2 separate regions of the Homo sapiens genome follow, and region 1 is linked to region 2. The links come from fine-mapping of genetic effects on gene expression. A gene starts in region 2. The other region holds a variant in brackets. All regions are shown on one strand. Distances are between the middles of the regions.

Evidence for each region. PIP is the estimated chance that this variant, and not a neighbour inherited with it, causes the effect.
Region 1: its variant is fine-mapped to the expression of BLTP3B in whole blood (INTERVAL, PIP 0.98).

Annotation. Positions count from the first base shown.
Region 1 is chr12:100,100,727-100,112,786 of GRCh38, reverse strand. BLTP3B (bridge-like lipid transfer protein family member 3B) reads left to right here. Exons shown (of 21, transcript NM_015054.2): 2 at 4,239-4,401; 3 at 8,836-8,874; 4 at 9,930-10,021. Among named protein-coding and RNA genes, the nearest start is that of BLTP3B, 36 kb to the left of the region's middle. The variant TG/G (reference allele first, on the strand shown) is at 4,675.
Region 2 is chr12:100,138,202-100,150,261 of GRCh38, reverse strand. BLTP3B (bridge-like lipid transfer protein family member 3B) reads left to right here and starts at 7,388. Exons shown (of 21, transcript NM_015054.2): 1 at 7,388-7,670. The coding sequence starts at 7,627. It overlaps BLTP3B-DT (BLTP3B divergent transcript), which reads right to left and starts at 7,207. Exons shown (of 2, transcript NR_186018.1): 1 at 6,919-7,207; 2 at 5,591-5,722. RefSeq lists enhancers at 2,859-3,667, 7,080-7,843 and silencers at 7,224-7,403, 7,724-7,973, 11,362-11,511.

The DNA.
Region 1 (12,060 bases), 37 kb after region 2:
CCGGGTTCAGGCAATTCTCCTGCCTCAGCCTCCTGAGATTCTTGGCTTTTTGTGCATTTATTCTCTGTTCCCTTAACCAAATTATAAATCTTTGATTATATGGACCTTTTTGTTTTGTTTTGTTTTGCCCTTAAATGTTTACTTAGTGCAGTGCACATAATTTAGACCCTAATAATGGTGTATTGATTGTAAAATGTATAATCTAAATCAAGTCTACTTTTTTCATTTGCTTGGAAATTTTATTGCTGTTGTTAGCTATTATTTTTGTTTTTTGTTTTGTCTTTGAGACAAAGGCTCTGTCACCCAGGCTGGAGTGCAGTGGCAAAATTATGGATCACTGCAGCCTTGACCTCCCAGGCTCAAGCAATCCTCCCAGCTCAGTCCCCTCAGTAACTGGGACTACAGGAGTGTTCCACTATGCCTGGCTAATTCTTTTTTAAATTTTTTGTAGACATAGGGTCTCACTAATATAGTCACTCACTAATATATAGACCAGCCCAGGCTGGTCTCAAACTCTTGGGCTCAAGTGATCTTCTTGCCTTGGCCTCTCAAACTGCTGAGATTTCAAGCATGAGCCACTGCTCCTGGCTAAATTACATATATTTTAATCCTCCTCATTTTTCACTTTTGCTCTTGCCAGGCCAGGCTTTTTTGGTTTCCCTTGAACTTTTGTCTTTATAAAAGTGGTACATGCTCGTTATAGAATACTTATACAGAGAAGTATAAATAAGGAGAAGTAAATCTAGGCTGGGTGTGGTGGTTCACACCTGTAATCCCAGCACTTTGGGAGGCTGAGGCAGGAGGATTGCTTGACCCCAGGGATTCGATATCAGCCTGAGCAACATAGTGAGTCCCTGTCTTTAAAAAATAACTAGCTGGGGCTGGGCACGGTGGCTCATGCCTGTAATCCCAGCCAGCACTTTGGGAGGCCGAGGTGGATGGATCACAAGGTCGGGAGTTAGAGACCAGCCTGACCAACATGGTGAAACCCCGTCTCTACTAAAAATACAAAAATTAGCTGGGCGTGGTGGTGCGTGCCTGTCATCCCAGCTTCTCAGGAGGTTGAGGCAGGAGAATCGCTTGAACCCAGAAGGCAGAGGTTGCAATGAGCTGAGATTGTGCCACTGCACTCCATCCTGGGTGACAGAGCAAGACTGTCTCAAAACAAAACAAAACAAACAAACAAAAAAAAACAAAAAACTAGCTGAGCATGGTGGCATGTGCCCATGGTCCCAACTGCTTTGGAGGTGGAGGTTGCAGTGAGCCAAAATCAAACCACTGCACTCTAGCCTGGGCAACAGGGTGAGACCCTGTCTCAAAGTAAATTAAATAAATAAACTAATTAGCTGGGTGTGGTGGTCCCAGCTACTTGGAAAGCTGAGGTGGGATCACCTGAGTCCAGGCGGTCGTGGTTGAAATGAGCCATGATCACACCACTGCACTCCACCCTGGACAACAGAGCGAGACCGTGTCTCAAAAAAGCAAAAAAAAAAAAAAAAAAAAAAAAAATCTAAAACCCCACCAGCCATAGGTAGTCATGGGATTTTATGATGCATTTTTTACATACTTGAAATTATAGCACATAATTTTGTGACTTGAATTTTCATCAAACATTATAATATAAACATTTCTTTATAAGACTGGCAACATATATTACTTGATATGTATGTATTAATAATATAGTGTATTATAATTAGATGGGGTATCCCTCTTGGGACGTTTAGATTGTTTTCACTCTTTTTTTCTTGTAGATATCCTTGAAATGAACATTCTTGTACATACCCAATCAAGGTGTTGCCTGATTTCTTCACTAACCATGCTTCACCTCCATCCCCATATTCCTCCATGCCCAAGACTAAGGATATATAGTCAAATGTTAGAATATATAGTCAAATATTCTGTTTGAGTTACTCAGATTAGTCTGTTGTCCATCCTTCCTTCCCTATAAATATTACAGATAACAGTATTTCTGATATTTTTTCAATTCCACTTTATATCATCTCCCTCCTGTCTTAGAACCTTTATGCATTTTATTCCTCTGCTTGGAATACTTTCTTTCCCTACCCCCTTTTCCTCCTTGCCTAGTTAACTTCTCTTCCTTTAGATACCAGCTCAAAAGTCCCTGTTTCAGAGAAGCTCTGGATTAGAACTCCTGCTATATTCTCTCTTAGTTGTGCCATTTGATCCGTCTCACCAACTAAACTGAAAACTCCACAAGGGCAGGGACCTCAAGTGTACTGCTTCCCAGTATGTGTGTCTGCATAATGAATTCTCAATAAATACTTATTGAGTGTTGTCTTCTGGCTCTAATATTCTGCCTCAGGGAAGTGGCAGGGTTTTTTGTTTGTTATCTATGGTTAGGAATGGCATTCTATGAGAAAGCGTCGTGGTATTGAATCAAGCGTGATCAGAAGCAAGTGTAATACAGCTCAGCATCATTGGTCAAATACATGTGTTAAATGATTGTTGTATTTCTCAGTTGACATCCTGTGAGAAGATATGAATTCAGATAGAATCTGGCTCAAATTCTGGTTTGGAGTCAGTGGAGAAACATGAGTTTATTGATTGGTATTCTTGTTGACAAGTAGGGCATGTGAATAACCCAGTATATAATGTTGCTTTATATTTAATTTCCAAAAAAAGTAAAGACTAACTCTTGTTAGCCAGTAGTTTAGTTTTTTTCAGTAATTTCACTTTTGAAAAATTATTTGTTGGGCATAGTTAGTAATTTTTATTTTTTAGGGTTGTTTGGAAGATAAAGTAATGTATATGAATGTATTTCAAAGTAGATGTGTAATGTATTTTCATTGTTAGTTGTGATATTAGGCAAGTAAGTTCAAGTTTCTCCTTAGGTTTACTTATTCAAAAATTGGGTTAAAATTAGTATAGACCCTAATAGGTTATCATGGGAACTAAATGAAATAGTCACGCATGTATGCCAAGAGCTTGGAACACAGTAAACCCTTGGAAAATGCTCACTCTTACATTAACTATTTCCAATCTTTTTTTTTTTTTTTTTCTGAGACAGGGTCTCACTGTGTCACCCAGGCTGGAGTGCAGTGGCACAATCTCAGCTCACTGCATTCTCCACCTCCTGGACTGAAGCGAAACTCCCACCTCAGCCTCCTGAATAGCTGGGACTACAGGCATGCGCCAACATGCCCAGCTAATATTTTTGTATTTTTAGTAGAGACCAGGTTTCACCATGTTGGCCAGGCTGGTCTTGAACTCCTGCCCTCAAGTGATCCGCCCTCCTCAGACTCCTAAAATGCTGGGATTATAGGTGTGAGCCACGCACCTGGCTGCCTTTATCATTTCTTTGTGTTACAGACATTCCAGTTACACAATTACTTTAAAACGTACAATAAATTATTGTTGACTGTAGTCACTTTGTTGTGCTGTTGAATACTATATCTGTCTTAGTCCGTTTTTATACTGCTATGAAGACATACCTGAGACTGAAGAAAGAAGTTTAATTGGCTTACACTTCTGCATGGCTGGGGAGGCCTCAGGAAACTCACAATCATGGTGGAAGGTGATGGTGAAGCAAGGCATGTTTTACATGGTGGCAGGAGAGAGAGAGAGAGAGAGAGAGAGAGAGAGAGAGAGAGAGAGAGAGAGAGAGAGGAAAACTGCCAGACACTTTTAAATCATCAGATCTTGTGAGAACTCACTCCCTAACTATCATGAGAAACTACCCCCATGATCCAGTCACCTCCCACCAGCTCCTTCCCCTGACATGTGGGGATTACAATTAGAGGTGAGATTTGGGTGGGGACACAGAACCAAACCATATCAGTATTGTATTCATTCTACCTAATTGTATTTTTGTACCCACTACCCATTCCCACCCCTGCTCCCCACCACTACCCTTTCCAGCCTCTGGTGACCATCATTTCTACTCTTGATCTCCATGTATTCAATTGTTTTAATTTTTAGCTCCCACAAATGAACGAGAGTGTGTAAAGTTTGTCTTTCTGTGCCTGGTTTGTTTCACTTAACTGTAGTGTCCTCCAGTTCCATCCATGTTGTTGCAAATGACAGGATCTCATTCTTTTTTATGGCTGAATAATACTCCATCGTGTATATGTACCACATTTTCTTTATCCATTTGTCGTTGATGGACATTATGTTGTGTCCACTCCTATTATATTTTTAGTTCTCTGTATATTTGAAAAAATGACTCTGGAGTATAGTAACTGACACATAAATAAATGTCAATGTGTATTCTCTTTCAGATTTACCAAAAATTTATCTCCTGACAAGATAAATCTAAGTACCCTTAAAGGAGAAGGTGAACTGAAGAATTTGGAGTTGGATGAAGAAGTACTCCAGAATATGTTGGATTTGCCAACATGGCTTGCTATCAACAAAGTTTTTTGTAATAAAGCGTCCATTAGGGTGAGACTTTGATATCTGTGGCTTGATATTTGTGGAAGGCCTTTCATGTTTTCCTTCTATATTTTGGCTCTAGCTTTTAAAATACTTAATTTTAGATAATTGTGTAAAAACATTTTTATTAATATAATTTCAAAAGAAAGATACCTTTGCATAAATGTGTGCCTTATGTGTAAAGGCATATATTAACTACTTTATAGATCTTAATTTTTGTGTAAAGTGATTCCATTAATATTTCAAAATTATTAATTTGTTAATAAAATAATTGCATCCATT[TG/G]GTACATGTTCAAAGATAGTTTTTTCATAAGTTTTATTGTCAAATGGGACAATCTAAACTTGTAGTGAGTTGCTGGGCATGGTGGCTCACACCTGTAATCCCAGCACTTTGGAAGGCCGAGGTAGGCGGATTGCTTGAGCCCAGGAGTTTGAGACTAGCCTGGGTAACATAATGAGACTGCATCTATACTAAAAATAAAAATAAAAAAATAGCCCAACATGGTAGCACATGCGCCTGTAGGCCCAGCTACTTGGGAAGCTGAAGCAGGATGATCGGTTGAGTCTGGAAGGGTGAGGCTGCAGTGAGTCATGATTGTGCCACTGCACTCCAGCCTGGGTGACGGAGTGAGACCCTGTCTCAAAACAATTTTTAAAAAGTAGTGAGTAAATACTTTTCAAATGAAGACATGAGAACTAATAAATTTGCAGTTTTATCCCTTTTCTTCATTAGTTTCTTTTTCATTTTGAGATTTTTTTTTGAGACGGAGTCTTGCTCTGTCACCAGGCTGGAGTGCAGTGGTGCAATCTCAGCTCACTGCAACCTCTGCCTCCCGGGTTCAAGCGATTCCCCTGCCTCAGCCTCCCAAGTAGCTGGGATTTCAGGCACGTGCCACCACGTCTGGCTAATTTTTTTGTATTTTAGTAGAGATGGGGTTTCACCATGTTGGCCGAGATGGTCTCAATCTCCTCACCTTGTGATCCGCCCGTGCCCAGCCCATTTTGAGATTTTTAAGGGTCTCTGTTTACTGTTAGTATCATTCCTATTATTATTATTATTATAACTTATTATTCTACTTATCTTTTTTTTTTTTTTTTTTTTTTTGGGAGATGGAGTCTTGCTCTGTCACCCAGGCTGGAGTGCAGTGGCACCGTCTTGGCTCACTGCAGCCTCTACCTCCCAGGTTCATGCAATTCTCCTGCCTCAGCCTTCCAAGTAGCTGGAATTATAGGCGCATGCCACCACACCTGGCTAATTTTCGTATTTTTAGTAGAGATGGGGTTTCATCCTGTTGGCCATGCTGGTCTCAAATTCCTGACAGGTGATCCACCACCCGCCTCTGCCTCCCAAAGTGCTGGGATTACAGTATGAGCCACCGTGCCCGGCTGACCTCTACTTATCTTTAATCATATGTCAATTTGTGTCACTTCTTGGTCTTAAAGATGAGGCTTTGTTTAAGAGTTGTCTGCTTAGTTGAAATACTGCATGCTGATTGTTTCCTAAAACTAAAATTTGGGCTCCTAAGAAAAGATTATAGAAAAGTTCCTATATCCTTTGATGGTCACTTTTAATTTTTGTTCTATCCTTTGGAAACCTAAATATCTACAAAGACTTGACACTTTCAGTAAATTTTTTTTTATTTCAATAGCTTTAGAGATACAAGTGGTTTTTGTTTACATGAGTGAATTGTATAGTGGTAAAGTCTGGGATTTTAGTGCATCTGTCAGCTGAGTAGTGTATATTGTACTCAGGAAGTAGTTTCATCCCTCATCCCTCTCCTACCCCTACCCACCTTCTGAGTCTTCAAAGTCCATTATGCCACTCTGTATGCCTTTGCATACCCATAGTTCACCTCACACTTAAAAGAACATGTGGTATTTGGTTTTCAATTCATGTTACTTCACTTAGAATAATGGCCTCCAGTTCTTTTCAAGTTGCTGCAAAAGACATTATTTTGCTCTTTTTTTATGGCTGAGTAGTATTCCATGGTATTTATGTACCACATTTTCTGTAACCACTCATAGGTTGATGGGCACTTAGATTGATTCCATATCTTTGCAATTGTGCATTGTGTTGCAATAGACATATGTGTCCAGGTGTCTTTTTTTTTTTTTAATAGAGTCATGTTTGAAATGAGGACCAGTGTCTTTTTCATATAGTGACTTCTCTTCCTTTGGATAGGTACCCACTCGGTAGTGGGATTGCTGGATCGAATGGTAGATCTACTTTTAGTTCTTTGAGAAATTTCTATACTGTTTTCTATTGAGGTTGTACTAACTTATATTCCTACCAGCAGTGTATAAGCATTCCTTTTTCATCACTTCCATGCCAACATCGATTGTTTTTCAACTTTTTAGTAATGGCCATTCTGGCTGGAAAAAGGTGGTGTCTCAATGTGTTTTTAATTTGCATTTCCCTTATGATTAATGATTTTGAGCATTTTTTCATGTGGTTGTTGGCCATTTGTATATCTTCTTTTGCAAAATGTCTGTTCATGTCCTTGCTCACTTTTTAATGGGCGTGTTTTTTTTCTTGCTGATTTGTTTGAGTTCCTTGTAGATTCTGAATATTAGTCCTTTGTCAGACACATAATTTGTGCATATTTTCTTTGTCAGATGCATAGTTTGTGAATATTGACAATCCGTAGGTTGTCAGTTTACTCAGATGATTATTTCTTTTGTTGTGTAGAAGCGTTTTAGTTTAATTAGGTCTCATTTATTTTTGTTGCATTTGCTTTTGGGGTCTCAGTCATAAATTCTTTGCCTAGGCCAACGTTCAGAAGAGTTTTTCCTAGGTTTTCTTCCACAGTTTTTATGGTTTCAGATCTTAGATTTAAAACTTTCATTTATCTTGAGTTAATTTTTGTATACAGTAAGAGATAGGGATCCAATTTCATTCTTCTACATGTGGCTATCCACTTTTTCCAGCACCATTTATTGAATATGGTGTCCTTTCTCCAGTTTGTGTTTTTGTATGCTTTGTCAAAGATCAGTTGATTGTTAGTATTTGGCTTTATTTCTTGGTTCTCTATTCTGTTCCATTGGCCTGTGTATTCTGTTCAATGGAACAGAAACAGAATACTTTATTCTGTTCCATTGGTCCATGTGCCTATTTTTACACCTGTTCCATGCTGTTTTGGTTACTATAGACTTGCATAATTTGAAGTTGGGTAATGTGATGCCTCCAGTTTTGTTCTTTTTGCTTAGGATTGCTTTGGCTATTTGGGTTCTTTTTTGGTTCCATATGAAGTTTAGGATTGTTTTTTCTAATTCTGTGAAAAATGATGTTAGTACTTTGAGAAGAATTGTGTTGAATTTGTAGATTGCTTTGGGCAGTATGGTCATTTTCACAGTATAGATTCTTCCAGTCCACGAGTATGGGATATATTTCCATTTGCTTATGTCATCTATGATTTTCCACAGTGTTTTGTAGTTCTCCATGTGGAGATCTTTCAACTCCTTGGTTAGGTATATTCCTACATTTTTTTTTTTTTTTTTTTTTTTTTTTTTGTAGTAGCAGTAGTTATTGTAAAAGGGATTGAGTTCCTGATTTGATTATCAGCGTGGTTTTTGTTGGTTTGTAGCAGTGCTACTAATTTGTGTACGTTGATTTTGTAACCTAAACCTTACTGAATTTATTTATTAGATCTAAGAGCCTTTTGGAGGCAAAACTTGGCATTTTTAGTACAGGGTATATCAACATTATGTATTTGATGTTTCCTACATTTTATATTAATGGCCGAACTTTTGTATTTGTCTTGAATATTTACAAAATGATTGCTCAGAATTTTAGGATTAAACAGGTTGTTAAGCTCTTCATTTAAATTATGATATTAAGATTTGTTTTAAGGATTGTTAAAAAAAAAAAGATACTTAAAAGAACCTGAAATTGGCCAGGCATGGTGGTGCGTGCCTGTAATCCCAGCACCTTGAGAGGCCGAGTTGGGTGGATCATTTGAGGCCAGGAGTTAGAGACCAGTCTAGCCACCATATCAAAACACTGTCTCTACTAAAAATACAAAAATTAGCCGGGCGTGGTGGCACTTGATTGTAATCTCAGCTACTGGGAGGCTGAGGCACGAGAATTGCTTGAACCCAGGAGGTGGAGGTTGCAGTGAGCCGATATCGTGCCACTGCACTCCAGTCTGGGCAACAGAAAGAGACTCTGTCTCAAAAAAAAAAAAAAAAAAGAAAAAAAGAACTTACAATTTCTATTCAAAAGATGTCTGAGGAGATATAGCTAGTAATAATTTCTTAAATAAAATGGGTACATCTGGTTTCAAAAGTATGAGTGAGTTGCTTAGTTTATTTTGTAGTTTAAGAAAAGTGATTTTATATAATTTGGTGTGTCTGTCCTATATTAATATAACACCTGTATTGATTACTGTTTACATTATTTTCTTCTTAATGATTGATCTTAAATTAAAAATTTTTCATTTGTAGATCCCATGGACAAAACTGAAAACACATCCCATCTGTTTGGTGAGTTCTGAAACCACTTTAGAAATAAACATTTATATATATACATTATCTAGCTACTCTGTTCATAGTAATCTTTTGTTTCATGGAAATATAGTCTGGATTTTTCACCAGTTAGGTTTCATTTTATTTTGATAGGACTCAGGTTTTTCATCCTTTAAATGAGAAGCTTTAACCTTAAAGTAGGAGCATCTTTAAAGTTTTTCAGGTCTAGAATACTGTGTTCTAAATTGGTATAGTATTTTATTGCATCATTTAACTCTTTGTTGATGTACTATGGGATTATTCTTTCAGTAACATTTGATCCAGACTGTCTTTGTTTCTCCTTTTAGTGATCTAGTAAATTATGAAATATGTTCTTTAATATACTTTGCTTTTTAAGGAAAGTTGAAGAAAATTGATCATTTGTTCGTTCATTTAAAAAATACAATGATCAAGAACATGAATAAAACAAGACAGTTTCAGATAATAATAAATGCTATATATGAAATAGAGAATGAAGAATGACTGGAGTAGTGTTAGTGATGGCGATTAAGGACATTAGATCTTTCTTCAAGGAGAAAAATATTACCCTGAGAAAGAACCTTTTCCATTATGGGAGTGTTTATTTTTTTTCACATTTCCTGCTTATTTCATATTTCCCATAGTTTTGTGTCTCATAGCTCAGATCTTAGATTGTGATAAGCTTTTTGGGGTAGTTCAGTCCTACTTATTAATATATAATTTCATCAATGAATATATCTGGGAGTAGAGATTCTGTTTTCATGAAATCTGATGATTTTAGTAGTTAATGGCTATGTCTTAATTCCCCACCCCCCAACACCTGTAATACACATAGCTTTTCCACCAGATAATAAATGCCTTGAGAACTGATTGAGTGCTTTGTGTTCTTTTTTGGCATTTGTCTTTTTAGACCTGTAGAGAGGCACTTAAATGACTCTGCTCACTTTTTACTTTCTTCCTAAAGAAAAATGAAAGAGAAAATAATCTTAAATAATACTTTAATAATATACGTAGAATAAATAATCTAATTGTTTATATTTTAACGTTTTTATTAGTCCCTGGATAAAGTAATAATGGAAATGAGTACATGTGAAGAACCAAGAAGCCCTAATGGCCCATCACCAATTGCAACTGCTTCAGGACAAAGGTAAGCTACTTCCATTAATCTGCATGACTGCCAATAACAGGACATTAAAAAAAAAAAAAAAAAAAGCCTTAACCTCAAATGGCCTCTATTTCAGTCAGCTCTCCCATCAAACATTTTACAATTTTAGTTATATACATTGCAAAGTTGCAGATTTGACTTTTAACTTTCTTTATTCATCTTGCTTTCCTTGCTATTATTAAATAATAGTGATTAACTAATGGCAGAGCAGCAACAGAAAATGGAAGCAGAAGAATTTAGGCATTATATAAATCAGATAGCCTCTGATCAGTTTCTCTGCATATCATTTTCTGTGCATCAGTGGAACTTTTATGACTCTTAAGAGTTAAGTTGGGAGGCTGGGAGCGGTGGCTCATGCCTGTAATCCTAGCACTTTGGGAGGCCGAGGCGGGTGGATTCCCTGGACTCAGGTGTTTGAGACCAGCCTGGGCAAAACGGTGAAACCCTGTCTCTACTAAAATACAAAAAACTTTAGCTGGGCATGGCGCCATGCACCTTTAATCCCAGTTACTTGGGAGGCTGAGGCAGGAGAATTGCTTGAACCCGGGAGGCGGAGGTTATAGTGAGCCAAGATCGCGCCATTGCACTCCAGCCTTGGTGACAGAGCGAGACTCCGTCTCAAAAAAAAAAAAAAAAAGAGTTAAGTTGGGCTCGGTGTAGTGGCCCACGCCTGTAATACCAGCACTTTGGGAGGCTGAGGTGGGCGGATCACCTGAGGTCAGGAGTTTGCCACCAGCTTGACCAACATGGTGAAACCCCGTCTCTACCAAAAATACAAAAACTGGGTGCGGTGGTATACGCCTGTATTCCCAGCTACTGAGGAGGCCCAGGCAGGAGAATTGCTTGAACCCGGGAGGTCAAGGCTGCAGTGAGCTGAGCTCATGCCACTGCACTGCAGCCTGGGTGATGGAGAGAGACTCTGTCTCAAAAACAAAGAGTTAAGTTGATGCCTTAAATTACAGACCTTTTGGGTTACTCTAAAATTCATTAAGTTTAAAATGTTTTTGCTTTCCACAGGTTGTATTTTGATAGATGAAAATCAGATGCTAATACAGCAGAAGTATGGGGATCATTTCATAAAGTCTTTTTGAAAAGTTAGAAGTTATTAAATTTTTAAAAATATGTTGTCTGCTTTTTTGCACTCAGTGAAATTTAAATCTAGAACTATACATGATTTTTCTACAACAGGATTTCTGCATTATTTTTGCGTTCACATTAATTGTTGACATAGATTTTTAATGTGATTAATGCCTCCTCATATTGCGTAAAATAGCAGCTCTGAACATGTATAGTATTCTAGGTGTTATGTAAAACAATTGATAAAACTTTTCTTGAGGATGAATGCATTCGTGTGTGTACACAGACACACACTCACTTACTCCTGTTTTACAAAGGTTGAGCCACCTTTATGTTAGTGCATGCCATGAGAATACCTACAGTGCATGCCATGGGAATCTAATGGTGATTCGTTCCACTTCTAAGAGTTGACTAAAGGCCAGGTTTATCAGATGTGCAGTTTATATTTGGACTACAGATATTAGTGACTGGGAAAAGAGCTTTCATGTTAACTTCTTTGTAATGTAGCATCATCCTGCAACTTCAGATTTTACAGGTTAGATTATGATTTCAGTTTTCATAGAATAGTTGTTGGCCTTTAGGTTGGCTAGAGTCGGAAAGAACTAAAATGAATCATTTTGTCCTTGTGTGCTTAGTATAGTTGATAGTGTTCTTCCTAATTCTTGTTTTTATAGTATCATAAGCTTTATAATTTTGGCTTTCTAATCATGTGATGATTTAAACTATTTAAATCATCCTCATATTTTGACATATGGCAGTATGGTTAATCTATTTCAGCATTTTTTCAGACTTGCCTGATTGTAACAGTCATTTAGAGTGCTTATTAAATCTACAAAGTCTCTGAAGCTCCTTTTCTTGAATTTCTGATTCAGTAGGTCTGGAATGGATATCAATAAAATGAATACATTCATTGAGTGGTGTTCAGAGTAAAAAAAAAAAAAAAT
Region 2 (12,060 bases):
AATACAAAAATTAGCCAGGCGTGGTGGCATGTGCCTGTAGTCCCATCTACTTGGGAGGCTGAGGCAGGAGAATCACTTGAACCTGGGAAACGGAGGTTGCAGTGAGCCGAAATCACACCATTGCATTCCAGCCTAGGCATCGCAGCGAGACTCTGTCTCAAAACAAAAAAACAAACAAAAAATTTTTAAGTAATTTGTTAGTCTGGAAACTACAGGGTAAGACATAAAAAACCAAAATGCCTTTAAACAACCCTAGACATGGGTGGGGGAATGTTGACTACGTCTCATTCTCATGTCTCTTGGGGTCTAATACATTTTACATACCTCACATTTTCCAGACTGCTCTGAGCTACTTTTCTTTCTCATAGTCATTCTATTTTCTCCAATTTAATATTAAAGTTATAAAATCTAAAAACCCTTAAAAACAAAAGTTGTAAGATCTCTTATTCCAGTCAAGTAAAGAATACTTTGTAAATCTTACATCATAGAGCAGCCATCATTTCTATTTATCTCTCATCCTTTAAAATATGCTATTTTCAGGCCAGGCATGCTCGTTCACACCTGTAATCCCAACACTTTGGGAGGCCGAGGCAGGCAGATCACCTGAGGTCAGGAGTTCGAGACCAGCCTAGCCAACATGGTGAAACCCCGTCTCTACTAAAAATACAAAAAATTAGCTGGGCGTGGTGGTGCTCTCCTGTTGTCCCAGCTACTCAGGAGGCTGAGGCAGGAGAATCACCCAGGAGGCAGAGGTTGCTGTGAGCCTAGATTGCGCCACTGCACTCCAGCCTGGGTGACAGAGCTAGACTCCACCTCAAAAAAAAAAAAAAAAAATGCTCTTTCCATCTTGTCTCTCCTGTTTATCCACCCTTTCTCATTTAAGCTTCTTTTTCCTTTCCTCATGACTTACATACCCTTTGATCAAGATTATTCTTGTTCTTGGCTTCAGCTACCACGATTCGTAAACCAGAATTTCCACCCAAAACTATAACCTTACAAAATTTCCACTGAGAAATCCTCAGAAAGCCTTAACAGCAAGAAATTCAACAGGATCTTATCTCCAAAACTGCCTGTCCAACTATATTACTTAACTAGTGGCGTGCCCCGAGCAAAAACCTCAATTACCTTCAATATTTATCCTTGATTTAATCTTTGGCATGTGTCCTTTACCTTCTTTCACCTCTACTGATACTGTCTTACCTCTCACCTGAAATAATGCCACCACCTTCTCAATGCCCTTTCTGCCTCCATTCTGTTCTCCATCCTCTGAACTGACAGCAAAATTGTCTGTAAATATTTTTCTGACTCAGAAATATGAACATCTTCCCCAATTAACCCATCATAGAGGTCTTCAGGACTCACTATTTCCTATAAAATGATGTCTATATATTTACATTTACAATCTCATCTCCCTCCAATTTTTTTTTTTTTTTTTGAGGCGGAGTTCCGCTCGTGTTGCCCAGGCTAGAGTGCAGTGGCGCAGTCTTGGCTCACTACAACCTCCATCTCTTGGGTTCAGGCAATTCTTCTGCCTCAGCCTCCCAAGTAGCTGGGATTACAGGCACCCGCCACCATGCCCAGCTAATTTTTTGTAATTTTAGTAGAGACAGAGTTTCACCATGTTGGCCAGGCTGGTCTCTAACTCCTGACCTCAAGTGATCCACCAGCCTCGGCCTCCCAAAGTGTTGGGATTATAGGCCTGAGCCACCGCGCCCAGCCTAAACTCATTTTATAGTCTTGTGCTGGTGAATGCTTAACAACTAGATCTCTAGGGGAAAAAGCCCTGCTTTCTATGTTGTAAATACTGTCATCATGGCTGATTTCAAACTATCCTTGTGGACAAAAAGAATCAAAGTCTATAAACTATTTGAAGAGATTTATTCTGAGCGAAATGAGTGACCATGGCCCATGACACAGCGCTCAGGAGGTCCTGAGAACATGTGCCCAAGGTGGTAGGAGTGCAGCTTGGTTTTATACATTTTAGGGAGGCACAGACATCAATCAAATACATTTAAGAAATACATTGGTTTGGCCGGGCGCGGTGGCTCATGCCTGTAATCCCAGCACTTTGGGAGGCTGAGGCGGGCAGATCATGAGGTCAGGAGATCGAGACCATCCTGGCTAACACGGTGAAACCCCGTCGCTACTAAAAATACAAAAAAAATTAGCTGGGCATGGTGGCGGGCGCCTGTAGTCCCAGCTACGTAGGAAGCTGAGGCAGGAGAATGGCGTGAACCCGGGAGACGGAGGTTGCAGTGAGCTGAGATCGTGCCACTGCACTCCAGCCTGGGGACAGAGCGAGACTCCATCTCAAAAAAAAAAAAAAAAAAAAAATACATTGGTTTGGCCAGGCCTGGTGGCTCACGCCTGTAATCCTAGCATTTTGGGAGGCCGAGGCAGGCGGATCATGAGGTCAGGAGTTCGAGACCAGCCTGGCCAATATGGTGAAACCCAGTCTCTACTAAAAATACAAAAAATTAGCTGGGTGTGGTGGCGCGTACCTGTAGTCCCAGCTACTCGGGAGGCTGAGGCAGAAGAATTGCTTGAACCCAGAGGCAGAGGTTGCAGTGAGCTAAGATCGCACTACTGTGCTCCAGCCTGGGCAATAGAGTGAGACTCCATCTCAAAAATATATATATATATTGGTTTGGCCAGGCGCGGTGGCTCACGCCTGTAATCCCAGCACTTTGGGAGGCCGAGGCAGGTAGATCACAAGGTCAGGAGATTGAGACCATCCTAGCCAACATGGTGAAACCCTGTCTCTACTAAAAATACAAAAATTAGCTGGGTGTAGTGGTATGCGCCTGTAGTCCCAGCTACCTAGGAGGCTGAGGCAGAAGAATCGCTTGAACCCAGGAGGCAGAGGTTGCAGTAAGCTGAGATTGCGCCACTGCACTCCAGCCTGGCGACAGAGCAAGACTCCATCTCGAAAAAATGAAATACATTGGTTTGGTCCAGAAGGGCAAGACAAGTCAAAGGAGGGGAGCTTCCAGGCTATAGGTAAATTTAAACATTTTCTGGTTGACAATTGGTTGACTTTGTCTAAAGACCTGGATGATCTGGTTAAGATAAAAGATCGTGGAGACCAAAGTTCTTTTGAAGTCTTAATGTGGCTGCCCTTAGAGACAATAGATGACAAATGTTTCGTATTCAGACCTTTAAAAGGTGATAGACTCTTAGTTAATCTCTTCAGGATTGAGAGGGCCTGTAAGAAAAAAACCTAACTATGTTAATAGAGATTCTTTATAGATGCAAATTTTCCCCCACAAAGAATGGCTTTGCAGGACCATTTCAAAATATGGCAAAGAAACATGTTTTGGGGTAAAATATTTTGACTTTCTCCTTTGTCACTGATAAAACAGGATGAGGTAAAGAAGCTGGCCAAAACCCATCAAAACCAAGATGGTCATGAAAGCAACCTCTGGTCATCCTCACTGCTCATTAAACACTAATTATAATATATTTGCATACTAAAGGAAACTCCCATCAGGGCCATGACAGTTTACAAATGCCATGGTAACATGGAGAAATTACCCTATATGATCTGAAAGGGGGAGGAACTCTCAGTTCCAGGAACTCCCTGCACCCTTACTAGAAAACTCATGAATATGTACCCTTTGTTTAGCATATAATCAAGAAATAACCATAAGTATAGTTGGGCAGCCCATGCTGCTACTCTGCTTATGGCGTAGCTATCCTTTTATTTCTTTACTTTCTTAACAAACTTGGTTTCACTTTACTCTTGTCAGCTTGGTCTTGAATTCTTTCCTGCAGAAGGCAGGAACCCAAGTAGCCTCCCAGCCTGAACCCCAATTTGGGGGTCACCCTACCACAACCAGCATAGCTAAATATCTGCAGAGTTCAGTTTTGATATGGACAGGAGACAGGGAAATACTGGGTAGAACAGAGTGGTTCCCTGGCAAATGCCCTACTCTCAAGCCTGGAAACCCACCGTCCTAAATGGGAACAGGCATTTCTGTTTTTGTGCTCAAAAGTTGCCTTTTGGCCTGCCACAGCACCCTATCTTGTATCCATAGAAAGCCCAAACCCCAGGCTCCACAAGCAGATGAGCAGACAAGGAGATGAACAGATGAGCAGAAGAATGGCAGACCAGTGCAGCAGAGACAAGAGAAGTAGTGACTGAACGCTGAGAAGAGTTTGGCCACTGGATGGCCAAATTCCAGGGGAAGATCATCTTCCCACTCCATCCCCTTTCCAGCTTCCCATCCATCCTGTTGAGAGCCACCTCTACCACTCAATAAAACCCCACATTCACCGTCCTTCAAGTCCCTGTGTGACCTCTTTCTGGATGCCTGACAATGACCTGGATACTAAGAGGGCACTGAGCTAGTTAACACTTAAGCTATCTGTGGACAACAAAGCTAAAAGAGTGCAGTGTAACGCATGCCCACTTGGGCTTCAGGAGTTGCAGTTACCCACCCCTAGACGCTACCATGGGGCCAGAGTTCAAAAGTCCTTGCTCCGGCTTCTGCACTTGCCCATCTGTGTGCTCCCTGTCCTATTAGGGGTTTGCATGTGCTCGGTAGCCAAGCAGATGAGCCACCCCCCTGTGTACTTCGTGCATTAGTGTTAGTCCTGCGAGTGAAGTCAGGGAACCCTCCTGCTTCAGTTTTAAATCCAAGTCTTTGATTTCAGGGTCCATTTTTTTAAAAAAATTAAATGGATTTATTCATATCTTTGAAATAATACCTCTACTATAAGTCTGTCCCCAAATGAATTACTCCTTCCTCTGTGTTCTTATAGCACTTTGCTTGTTTTTGGTAAAGTAATTAATAATACCTAGCCTTTATTGAGTTTGCTATAAGGCAGGTTAACAGTAGCTACTAATAATAATATCTCTTAACACATGAGATCACTGAAGCTGAGAAAGATTAATTTGCTGAAGTTTACACAGTTATAAAGTGGCCAGCATTTGAACCAGAGTCTACTAACAGAGCTGAAGGTGTAAGTAACATGAGTCTGCCTTCCAAGCCAGGCCGTTAACTCTGATGGCAGGAACAGAGATTTTTGTTTTCATTTAGGCAACCCCAGGATACTTGAATAGTGCCTGGTTTATAATCTATGATAAATGTTGAGTGTAGTCAGCTGGGTGTGGTGGCTGATGCCTGTAATCCCAACACTTTGGAAGGCTGAGGCGGGCGGATCACGTGAGGTCAGGAGTTCGAGACCAGCCTGGCCAACATGGTGAAACTCCGTCTCTACTAAAAATACAAAAATTAGCCTGGTAATCCCAGCTACTTGGGAGGCTGAGGCAGGAGAACTGATTGAACCTGGGAGGCGGAGGTCGCAGCGAGCCAAGATCGTGCTGCTGCATTCCAGCCTGAGCGATGGAGTAAGACTGTCTCAAAAATAAAATAAAAATAAAATGAAATGTTGAGTGTAGTCAACTTACACGTCTATCCTTTCCATTCTTCAAAAAGGGCCAGCTTATTGGACTATGTGTAAACTACTTCCCACCCAACTCCCAAGATGTACAACCACACATCTTGCTAATACATCCCTCAGGGGTGGTACAATTTCTTTTCCTGTTTTAGATATCACTAGTGTTAAAAGAAAAACTTCAGCCAAATTAAATTTAAAGGAGTTTAACAATGAACGATTCCTGAGTCTGGCAGCCCCCATAATCACAGCAGATTCAGAGAGACTCCAGCACAGCCACATGCTGGGAGCAGATTTCTGGCCAGCAAAAGGAAAGTGAGGTCTAGAAAATGGAAGTGAGGTACAGAAACAACTGGATTGCTTACAGCTCAGTGTTTGCCTTATTTGAACACAGTCTGAACAGTTGGCTACATCTGGCCAAAACTCAGTGATTGGCACAGGTGTGGGCTATGGTCGGTTTATACCTCTGCTTATTTTCATAAGTTCATGATGTACAGAAAAACCTTTAGGCTGAACTCAATTACGTAAGGAGGCAGTGTTAGGCTAAACTTGACTTAACACTGAGTAATTTTTTTTTTTTTTGAGACAGTCTTGCTCTGTCGCCCAGGCTGGAGTGCAGTGGCTTGATCTCAGCTCACTGCAACATTTGCCTCCCGGGTTCAAGCAATTCTCCTGCCTCAGCCTCCTGAGTAGCTGGGATTACAGGCGCCCGCCACTATGCCCAGCTAATTTTTGTATTTTTTTTTTGTAGACACAGAGTTTCACCATGTTGGTCAGGCTGGTCTTGAACTCCTGACCTCAAGTGATCTGCCTGCCTCGGCCTCCCAAAGTGCTGGGATGACAGAAGTCGTCATTTTAATCTCTGAAAATGTTAGCTCTGTTTGGGATTGGGTGGGGTGGAGGTGTAGAATTGTAACAGTTTTCCCTAGTTCAACAATTTCCTTCCTTCCTTACAGAACTTTTCATATGATATTTACACCTTTAGGTTCAACCTAGTGAAGTGGGTAAGGCTGATGATTAATCTATTTCACAGATGATTAAAATGAAACTAATAGTAAAGAAATTATTTTCCCCAGGATAACACAGCTAGAAAATACCAGAGCCAGGACTTGAATTATACACCTTCTAATTCCTAGGTCCTAGACTACTAGGAACCATTGTCAACCTTTACTTCCCTTAGAATAGCAATAACCAAAGGAAACATTAAATTGCCACATTTAGGTAAGGGAAAGGCAGGACACCTTAACAAAAGAAAAAAAAAAAACACCAAAAACAAAAACCTAAGGAAGAATATGAAGAAAGGTGAGTAGGTCAAGAGAGCAAAGCAAGCACAGGAGTTAATGGCCGATTCTTAAAACATTCTAAGGAGGCCGGGTGCAGTGGCTCACGCCTGTAATGTCAGCACTTTGGGAGGCTAGGAGGGTGGATCACGAGGTGAGAAGTTCGAGACCTACTGGCCAATATGGTGAAACCTCGTCTCTAATAATACAAAAATTAGCCGGCCGTGGTGGTGCGCACCTGTAATCCCAGCTACTCAGGAGGCTGAAGCAGGAGAATCGCTTGAACCCTGGAGGTGGAGGTTGCAATGAGCCGAGATCGTACCACTGGACTCCAGCCTGTGTGACAGAGCAAGACTTGTCTCAAAAAAAAAAACAAACAAGCAAAAAAATAAAAAACATTCTGAGGAAATGAATAAGGGAAGTAGGACGTGGAAGTAAAAATCAGCGACGGGTCAGCGATGGAGGCGGGAACACCAGCAGAGGGAAGGAGGGAGGATTAAGGCCAAGAAGGATGGTGTATTGAGAGTCAAGGGCCCTGTGTCGCGAGGGCTAAGAACCCTGGCGCCAATGCCACAAACCTCCCGCCCCCGCCCAGAGCCCAGCCAGAGCCCAGCCAGAGCCCGCCCAGAGCCCGCCCAGAGCCGGCGTTGGCCCCGCCCCGCCTCGTGCCGGCCCCGCCTGGAGCCGCCCCGCCCCCGCCCTCCACCGAGTCTCTTAGGTGATGCTGCAGCCAAGATGGCGCCCGCGGCGGCCGTGGCGGCCTGAGCGTGATGCTCCGGGTTCTCGGCGGCGGCTGTGGCCTTGGCCGGGGCCTTGGGTCTCTCCCGGTCGTGAGCGATCAGCGCCTCTCCGCCGGCCGGGCTAGCCGGGACAGAGAGGAGACGGCCACGAAGAGAGGAGGCAGTGAGCAACAGGACGAGACCGCGGCGTCTCCAGCCTCGGTACCATGGCCGGGATCATCAAGAAACAAATCTTGAAGCACCTCTCCAGGTCAGTGAGCGCCTCGGTGTCGGCGCCAGTCGGCCTCCACCCCAGCCCGCACTGGAGTCAGCCTGCGGCTTCGGGGGCGGCGGCGCCTGGCGGCTGTGCGGGAGGCGACCTTCGGACTTCCCCGCTCTGGCCGGGGCAGAGGTCGCGGCCCCGGATCTCTTGTCGCCGGCGGCGCCGGGGGCTGGCCTCACGAATCGGCCCCTGACGCGTCTTCTCCCAGGGTGGGCGCGCGGAGGAGCCCGGAGTGCGGAGCGCGGCGGGCTGGGATCGCTCCCGGCGCGGCGTCTGGGGGCGTCCCGGCTCGGCTCTGTGCGGTACTGAGCGGAGGCTGGAGGTGGCCTGGCGTCACCCAAGTGCCTGGTTAATGTGCTGGGCTCTAACTCGAGTTCGGTGCTCCTTCCCCTTGGAGCAGAGCGGTTCCGTTAACCGAGGGCTTCTGGCGCAGTGTGGACGCTCAGTGGAGGCTGTGTTCTCAGTGGAACGTTAACCTTGTGATTGTTCTGAATTCCTCCCACCTTGGCGTTCCCGCTCTGTGGCATCAGAGGGTGTGCCTGTTTGCACAGTTAGGATTTGTTTTAGGTAAATAAGCAGAGTTCGCAGCTTTGGCAGGTTCTTTCTGGAGTCCTATGAGACCCACATCATTATTACTGAACATTTTTTTTTTTTGGTTTTTGCTCTTTTTCCTCTGCAACTCTAAAATTCAGGGAGTTAACATCTGTGGTGATTAAACCCAAGACATGTCATTCTCTCCATTTCATAACGCGGTTTTAGTCAGAAACATGACTCAGTAAGGCTGGCAGTTTGTTACTGCTCTTGGCTTCTCCGTGTTTGTCTCAAGACACAGGCTAAATGTAGGCTCTTGTTCCAAGTTGTTACCAGCGAACTCAAAGCCCTTGGTTAGGATCCCTTTCTGTTCGATTTGTAAGTTAATTTTAACTAATTTTGGGAAGACACGGGTATGATTATAGACTTGTATAGTAAACATAATTCTTGATTCCCCAGATTGTCTTATACCACAGGTTATATATTGGGAACAGAATTCTACTTCTGTGATTCAGCAAATATTTTCCTCACTTATAATACTGAATAAGATATAGCACTTTTCTTAAAAGTAGCAAAGTATAGCAGCGTGTGTGTGTGTGTGTACATATATATACATATGTACATATATACATATACATATATACACATATATACACATACATATATATGTGTACTACATATATATGTGTATACACTACACATATATATGTGTATATATGTAGTATTTTTTTAGTAGAGACTGGGTTTCACCAGGCCAGGCTGGTCTTGAACTCCCAACCTCAGGTGATCCGCGGTCCTCGGCCTCCCAGAGTGCTGGGATTACAGGTGTGAGCCCCCACGCCCTGCATGAATATGTATTTCTTAATGTTATCACTCATTGAAAAGTTTCTTTTAAAATTATATATATGGCCCAATCTTGAACTATCTTATTTTGGAAGGTTTTATCTATTTTTAATTTATGTCCTCCCGCCTTTCTCATACCCAGCTCCACAAGAAAATACAGATCTGCAGAAAATGATTTGAATGCCTACTTTCTCACTCGTCCAAGGATGATGCTGCATAGCTAGTACCACTCTAGATGCTTGGAAGAAAAGTTAATTCAATCAACAGATAGTGCATTAGAGTTTAATTCTTTTATAGAACTCCATTTGAGAGGGGCTCTTAAAAATTAAGAGCATGCATACCAAAGTATAATAAAAAAAATTAAGAACAAAGATGTAATGGCTTACTGCATGAGATAGAAAACACCCATATATTGAAAATTGAGTCTTTAGGGCTAGTTTTTATTTTATTTTATATATATATATATATATATATATTTTTTTTTTTTTTTTTTTTTTTTTTGAGACAGAGTCTCACTCTGTTTCCCAGACTGGAGTGCAATGGCATGATCTCGGCTCACGGCAGCCTCTGCCTCCTGGCTTCAATCAGTTCTCCTGCCTCAGCCTCCCGAGTAGCTGGGATTACAGGCATGCGCCACCACGCCTGGCTAATTTTGTATTTTTAGTAGAGACAGGGTTTTTCCATGGTGGTTAGGCTGGTCTCAAACTCCCAACCTCAGGTGATCCGCCTGCCTTGGCCTCCCAAAGTGCTGGGATTACAGGTGTGAGCCACCGTGCCTGGCCCTTAGGGTTAGTTTCTAAATCTGTATGATTTGTAATAGCTGTGTGATAAATAGTGTGATGAGGATTTTTTTTTTTTTCAGAGATGAGTTTTTGGGACACTTGAGTTTTCAGTTATTTCATATTTCAAAACATCCTTAACTCAGGTGACTAAAGAGTATCAAATTTTTATTTTTGGTTAATAAGTTAATCTTACTGCTAATTGCTGTCATCTCCTAAGAAAAATAGTTATTCAGAAATCTAAAGGCAGCTCGTAATTGACAAAAGAAGGCAGGTGTTGTGATAAATTATAGTTACTCAGGAAGGAATGAACTTTTGAAATTACCTGGTTCAAGTTTAATTTTATAGAATATCCAGTAATGAAGATGTCACTACATTGACCTAGTGGTCTGGGATACAGTAGAATATAGTTTACCAGGAAATAGTTGAACATACTAGTTTCTAATACTAGACATCATGTGAGGCCTGTGTATGCAACCCATTGCACCTTCTCAAAGGTGACCTTTCCTGACCACAGAGTTTAAAATTGTGAGCCCCCATATTGCCAGTCCTCTTGCTTGCATTATTTTTCTCCATAGCACTCATGCTTGTCTGTCGTACATATTTATTTCTTTATGTATTTTTGTCTTTCTCCACTTAAATGTAGACTCTATGAGAGCAGGGATTTTTGTCTTGAGGCTGGCATAAAGTAGGTACTCAACAACTATTTGTTGCATGAATGTGGATACATAACATGAATGAGCTTACTTTCTCTTACATTGCTTTTTTTTACTGAGGCAAGACTACTGCCAATATTCTTATAGATTTGGGAATGACCAGTTTCCCTGTGGCTTTAGGAGGCAGTGAGTAATTGAATCATTAAATAAATGTGGTGCCTTTGGATCCTGGAAAATAACTAGGAAAATGACCTAGTTCTTACAGGGGTTTATATGAGGGGTCTTCCGGTAAGGAAATAACCCAGTTATTGTATGGGGGGAGGAGTTCTGCCAGTAAGGAGGAAGACTGTGAACCAACATGAGAAAGAGCTCTCATTTTTAGCCTTGAGGTTGAAATATAGTGCAGTTGCAAGATTAAAACCATCTTTGCCTGGATGAAGGGACTTGAGAAGCTGGTATGTTGGGAAAGTATGGAAGAGGAATTGTTCTTAAGAGATTAACAGATTCTTTAACTCAATGCTAAACTATTTGAGAACTGTAAATCTATATACTTGTTCCTTGCCTAATTGTTAGTTTGTATTCCAAACATCTCTCCAGTTGTTAATAAAAAGTTTATCTACTTGAAGAATCTGAAATGAGGACAAGGAGGTGTGTTGGTGGGATGGGGGAGCTTAGAGTAGTGACATTTTTCCAGAGTGAAACAGGAAAAGCTTTTGAAGGAGAAACTGCCCCGATTTTTCAAACTGTAATAGGACTGAATGTATTTTGGGAGGGTTTTCTAGGAGAGTAGTTTTTCACATGGGAATGGAAACTTCTAAAGAGAAGTCGTAACAAATGTGAGAAAGGAAATAAAAGCAGAAGCTACCTTTCAGCTCAAGACATTAGTGTGTGTGTGTGTGTGTGTATGTGTATGTGTATACACATGTACACACCTGTGAACAGGCGCTTGCAAATCGGCAAAGTGGACGTATATTTAATTAAGCCAGGACCTGAAAAGGGGTAGGGAAGTTTTGGATACAGACACTCTCTTCTCCTTCGCTCCCTTAGGCTAAGGGCATACTGTGCTCTGCACAAGGTTTCCTGGGAGTGGGAGTTGACTGGGCAGACATTCACCTCACCTCGGTGGAGTCATCGTATAGTTTAAAGCAGCAGTTGTCAACCAGGGTCAGTTTGTCTTGAGGTGACATTTGGCAGTGTCTGGAGATATTTTTAATTGTCAAGACTTGGAGGGGAGGGTAATACTACTGCCATCTAGTGAATAGAGGCCAGGGATGCTGCTAGACGTTCTACATTGCACAGCATATTCCCTCACAACAAATAATTATTTGCCCAAATGTCAGTAGTTCCGAGATTGAGAAACCAGCTTAAAGTGTACAGGTGTGTGTCGTATGATTGAGCTAGGGTTCTGTGCTAGTAAAGTTGTTTTGCCTGCAAACATCAGAAAGCTGATCTATTTAAGTAAAAAGGGAAATGTAACAGAAAGCAGAAGAATATCTGAACAACCAAATCAAGGAAAGAACAGGAACCAGCTAGCTCCTAGAATCTCATTGGAAGAGTTCTTGGACCTTC